Regions from separate parts of the Homo sapiens genome. Here region 1 is linked to region 2. The links come from fine-mapping of genetic effects on gene expression. A gene starts in region 2. The other region holds a variant in brackets. All regions are shown on one strand. Distances are from middle to middle. Region 1 has its middle 41 kb from the start of EGR2. Region 2 holds the start of ADO (2-aminoethanethiol dioxygenase).

Region 1 (2,916 bases), 52 kb after region 2:
TGTGTAAAATGCCAGAAGGGTTTATTGTTGGGTCTGTGGGCACTTGGGGATGTGGGATGGGGGCAGGAAAGAAAGGGGCTAGACACATCTGAGTGAAGGAAAGACAGCGTTAAGATGTTGAGGAAGAAAGAGGAGCAGAAAGGGGTAAGCTGGGTTCTTCTGAGCATCAAGATGGATATTGGTCCAAGTGTTTAAGTCTGAAGCTAGGTGCATACTTCTAAGTGTGGAGTGATTTTCAGGCAAAGCTGATTCCTATGATATGCATTGATAATTATAGGGGCTATTTCTGCTCCTGCCAGTAGTTCAGAGATATTCAAAGGGTGCGTAAAATTATTTAAACTATTTTATTTTTGGGTCAAAATGATTGCAAAGCAGAGAAACGGTCGGGAAAAAATAAAACATTTACTGGGGTTTGCAAAAGGAATATTCACATAAATAAAGTGTCAATCCACATGTAGCACTTTGCTTCTTGTGTGGTAGGAAGTGAGAAAATGTCGAAGCCAAATCTGCTATCTTTTTGCGTTTTCAATGTAAGGAAACAGTCATTATCTGTCAGATCTGGATCTTCCATGATTCAATGATGAAATAGCCCATAAAAGGTGCTCAGAAAAGCAGTGGTAATTCCATATAACACCACAGAACACAATCATAACTTCATATCTTTAGACTACATCTCTGAGCAAGGTTCCACGGCATTTGAACTTACATTTTCATCAGCACAAACCACAGGTATAGTGTAAAAAAAAAAAAAACAAAAACAAATTTTAACTCACTCCGAGACCTCAAAAGATTTAACAAGAATTGGATAAAACCTTTGTGTCTCAGCACTATTACAGCTTCAGCTAACCACAAAAATAAAAAAGCTGTTCCTATATTAGTGAGTTATTTTAATGAGATTCCTGGAGATAATGTAAAAGTTCTTGAACTTGATGTCCTGCCAGGGGCAACAAGTGGCTATTTTACTTTCTCTACTCTGAGTGCAGCACCCTGGTTGATAAGATGATCAGCAGGTCAGCTGATAATATTAACTTCAGAGATGGAAAATCCTACCAGTTTAAAGACTTTTTTCAAGAAATTGATGACTAACTTCATCAAAACCTGATAAGAATTGATTCTAACAGTACACTCATATCAATGCTATAAATGAAACATCTGATGATTTTCCAGTTTTTGAGGAAAGTTGTTCCTGTAAAATATTTTTCTCTATATATGGTGTGAATAGGTCACTGCAATAATTTGGTGATTTGGTCAAAGGGCAATGCAAATAGCATTACCTTAAATTCAAGATATCTGAGACTGATGCCTCCTCTTGAAAGAAGACTAAACATGTTTCAAATAGTTTATTATTCTACAAACAGTTAAAACAAATTGATGGCCTCTTATCTAAATGAAGAAAAAGATAAAGATTTTAATTCAAGGCACTGGTTCTTGTTTTAAGCAAACTACTTCCACTATTTTACCTGATGCTCTTTCTAAAAGAAGGGGCAGAACATATCATCACTGAAGACCATGTGCTTTTCTAGCAGTATGCAAAAGTCATAAATAATTCTAAGTTTTCATTTTCA[T/C]TTCAAACTATGAGAATTGTGAAAGAACATCATTAACAGTGGTTTTCACTCTGGTTTAGATCTATATCTAAACAGATGAGTTATATATAAAATTGTCTAAATCATGAAACTTTGGGAGAATGAAGTGCAAATAAGGCCTATCATTTATACTGGCTTCACTTAGGGAGAAATTATAAATAAAATCATACAGAAAAGCCATTAATTCCTTTCAAAGTTTTGTCCCTTCTTTATCATGCAATGACATTTTTAATAAACACCATGTCCTTAAATTATAGTTTAATGAGAACTTACTAGCCTAATGGGCAAAGAGAAAGGATACAAATGAGAAACAACTGGATATGATGAAAGATTGTTTTCCTCCTGTGTATCTTAGTATTCCAGTCTTATTTTAAAAGTGCAAATTCATCCTCTGCTAGGTACACCATGAAGGAGAGACAAATTTCAGCAAAGAACAATTTTAGAGACTGTGAACCCTCTTCAGGTTCAGTGAGCACTGAAACTGTAGACTCTCTCTTAGTATTCAAATTAAGTACTTAGAGACTTGGTAAGAGATGTTTGAGAAAATTAGGCAAAAATCAACAGTTATTGATGGAAGCTGAGTTCTTCAAAAAAATGCAAGGAAAATAAGTTACTCTCAGCATCATTATTGGATAAATGATTAAACTGAAGAAGTGAATATTGCATTGAAGCATATATATGTCATTTTCCTGACAGACTATGATTCATTGGGAAAAGGTTTTCTGTGGTTTTTTAATACAGTCAAGTTCATTATTAAAATTTTTTAATTAATAGACTTTTTTTAGAACTAGGTTAATAGAAAATTGAACAGATGAAGAGTTCTTATAAACTCTACTTCCTTTTATTGCATCTTATATTAGGGTGGTATATTTGTTAACATTAATGAGCCATTATTAGTGCATTATTACTAACTAAAAATCTATACTTTAGGACTCACTCCTTGTGTTATTAAGTTCCATGTGTTTTATTATAGATATTTTTACCAAATTTTGTATTTCTCTTCATTTTGTTCTTTTACATAAAGAATAATGAGTCATAAACAATGTATAGTGACATATAATGTAATATCTATACTTGGAAGCACTTTTAATATAAATAAATTCTAGGAAATAAAAGCCCTCATTTCCTAATTCAGAATAGGAAGACACTAAAGATACTAGGCATAAGAAAGAACCTGAGTAGTTCTGGGAAAACAGACTCCAGAATGTTAAGGACAGAAATTACTTAGACCTCAGAATCTTGAACACCAAAGCATCAAGCAATGTTAAATCTTAGCAGGGAGGTGCTTGCCTGGCCCTTTAAATGTAGCTGACGTCAGAGGGCCTGGCCACCA
Region 2 (2,916 bases):
TGAGTAGGGTTCAGAACTTTTGTTCCCTTAACACCGGCATTCTACAAATGAATAAATTGAGGCCCTAAAAGGGTAGGATTTGCCTAACGACACACAGCTTGTAAGTACACACAGTAGGCTGGAACAACAATATCCTGACTCTCGTTTGGTGCTTTTACACCAATTCAAGCTGCTGTTTTTGGTAAGACTGTACTTATTTCTGCTCTGCTGCTCATGCTTTGCTGGGTACTTAGTATTCACTATCCTACAACTTATTCCCTCATCTGCAATCTGGGAATAATAATAGTGCCTGCCTCTTAAGAGTTGCTGCAAGGATTAAATAGTATAACATTCATTATATAATGCACTTAACACAGTGCCTGGCATATTGTGAGTACTCATTAGCCAGGTTATGTAATCCACTTTAAAAAGTATGCCTATTTTAACTGGAGAGGATTCACTGAACCACTCCAATTACAAAATGTACAAGAAACCCATGTTCAGCTTTGGAATCCAAAAAGACTTTAAACTCAGGGTTAAGTTTAAAGTCATAGTATCTAATGTCTTGCTTTTCTAGTCATTTACTTATGCCAAAAGTTAGTTCACGCCAAGGAGAAGGATGCCTCTGTGTAGTGAAACAATTTCACAATTACTGACTGAACTGACTGTTGCACACCACTATTTCTCCTAGGATGCCTCAGAACCATCTAGTAACTCCATCTCTGGGTGACGACAGGGAATCTGCATTTATAAAAGCCCGCTCCCCCTTCTCAGGCAAACCAAGATTTGATAACCACTAGTATGTTCAGAATCCACGACCACTGTAAATGGCCTCTCAAGTCTCTCCAGCAAAAAGCTATACTGCTCTGTAACCAGAAGAGCAGCGTCATCAGGTCCTGATGCAAACAACAGCTGGGCCCAGCTGGGCCCAGCTGGGCCGAGTAACCTTGATGATCACAGAGGACGGCCTGGACCCCCTCCCCTCCTAGGAAACACAAAATTATAAAAGCGCCCTCCTGCAATTCCCGTGGGAGACAGTGCTGCCTAGGCCGCTACGAGGAGCTAAGGCTGACTCAACAGCCTCCTTCCCAGGGGCAAGGCCAAAGGAAGGCGACCCTGCATGGCTAACCAGGCCCCAGCGCGGCGCCAGAAGGTTAACGACCCTCCCTGCCCCTTTCCTTATGAAGGCCAAGAGCCTCCACTACTCCGGGGGCCAGCTGACGGAAGTGCGTCACTCCACCCTGCGGGGAGTGCCGGGAGTTGTAGTCAAGTGGCTACTAATCTTCCACCCCGATTCATCTTTTCTAAAACAAGAAAAACACCTCTGCATCCTGAAAAAGATCGCTTTATGCCCAACATGTGTAATAGTTCCTCTATTTTCCAATCAACAAACTGAACTATCTCAGAGCTCAAGCGGAAGGCCGGACTACAAGTCCCGGCATGCTCCGCAGGGTCCCCGGGCGCCCGGCCACCGTCGTAGGTGCGGGCCGCATGAATGGAGCGCCGGGCGTAAGGCAAAGCCTGGCACCGTCTGCGCGGCCGCTATCTGCTCCCGGAGCGTGAGTGCGGGGTGTGGGGCGTGCGCGTGCGCGCTCAGAGGGGGCTCAAGGCGAGCGCGCCGGGCAGTTGCGGGCGCGTGGCTGCTGAGGTTGGCGGCGGTGCCGCGCGCCCGACGGGCCGGTGGTTGCGGGGCCTCCCGCCTCGACCCGGGCTGGGGGCAGCCGTGGCGGCCGCCGGGGACCGCAAGGGGCGGAGGAAAGGAGGGGGCCGGTCCCGGCACGCAGAGGAGCAGCCGACCATGCCCCGAGACAACATGGCCTCCTTGATCCAACGGATCGCCCGCCAGGCTTGCCTCACCTTCCGGGGCAGCGGGGGCGGCCGCGGCGCTTCCGATCGCGACGCGGCTTCTGGCCCGGAGGCGCCGATGCAGCCGGGCTTCCCCGAGAACCTGAGCAAGCTGAAGAGCCTCCTGACCCAGCTCCGCGCCGAGGACTTGAACATCGCCCCGCGCAAGGCCACACTGCAGCCGCTGCCGCCCAACCTGCCGCCAGTCACCTACATGCACATCTACGAGACGGACGGCTTCAGCCTGGGCGTGTTCCTGCTCAAGAGCGGCACGTCCATCCCGCTGCACGACCACCCGGGCATGCACGGCATGCTCAAGGTGCTGTACGGCACCGTGCGCATCAGCTGCATGGACAAGCTAGACGCGGGCGGCGGGCAACGGCCGCGGGCCTTGCCGCCCGAGCAGCAGTTCGAGCCGCCGCTGCAGCCCCGGGAGCGAGAAGCCGTGCGGCCGGGCGTGCTGCGTTCGCGGGCCGAGTACACCGAGGCCAGCGGCCCCTGCATCCTCACACCGCACCGGGACAACCTGCACCAGATCGACGCCGTGGAAGGGCCTGCCGCCTTCCTGGACATCCTGGCCCCGCCCTACGACCCGGACGATGGCCGGGACTGCCACTATTACCGGGTGCTGGAGCCGGTCAGGCCCAAGGAGGCCTCCAGCTCGGCCTGTGACCTGCCTCGAGAGGTGTGGCTCCTGGAGACCCCACAGGCCGATGACTTCTGGTGCGAGGGAGAACCCTATCCAGGTCCCAAGGTCTTCCCTTGAAGCCACTGGCGCCCAGGAGCGGTGGGCCGAAGACGTGCCCTACCCTACCACAAGGGCTGTGTCTCTACCCCCTAGCCTGGGCGTTGGATCTACTGGAATGAGCAGCAGCCGCTTCCTCGGCAGCCTTGGGAAGCACGGGCGACTGGACAGCAGCCGCCGGGCACGGTTATGGGGGCGGGGTGGGCGGGGAGGCTAGATTGTTTCCTGGTACTGTCACTGCCACTGGGGCTTTGATTTGGAGGAATGGGGCAGGGGACTATCTGAAGCGCTTCCATCCTAAAGCCATAATGAAAATATCTTCCTCTCTTCCCCATTCTATACAAAAT

The links. PIP is the estimated chance that this variant, and not a neighbour inherited with it, causes the effect.
Region 1: its variant is fine-mapped to the expression of ADO in blood mononuclear cells (TOPMed, PIP 0.94).

The regions. Positions count from the first base shown.
Region 1 is chr10:62,855,615-62,858,530 of GRCh38, forward strand. No RefSeq gene overlaps it. Among named protein-coding and RNA genes, the nearest start is that of EGR2, 41 kb to the left of the region's middle. The variant T/C (reference allele first, on the strand shown) is at 1,566.
Region 2 is chr10:62,803,283-62,806,198 of GRCh38, forward strand. ADO (2-aminoethanethiol dioxygenase) reads left to right here and starts at 1,438. Exons shown (of 1, transcript NM_032804.6): 1 at 1,438-2,916. The coding sequence starts at 1,778. The coding sequence ends at 2,590. RefSeq lists enhancers at 1,193-1,452, 1,923-2,042 and a silencer at 1,493-1,742.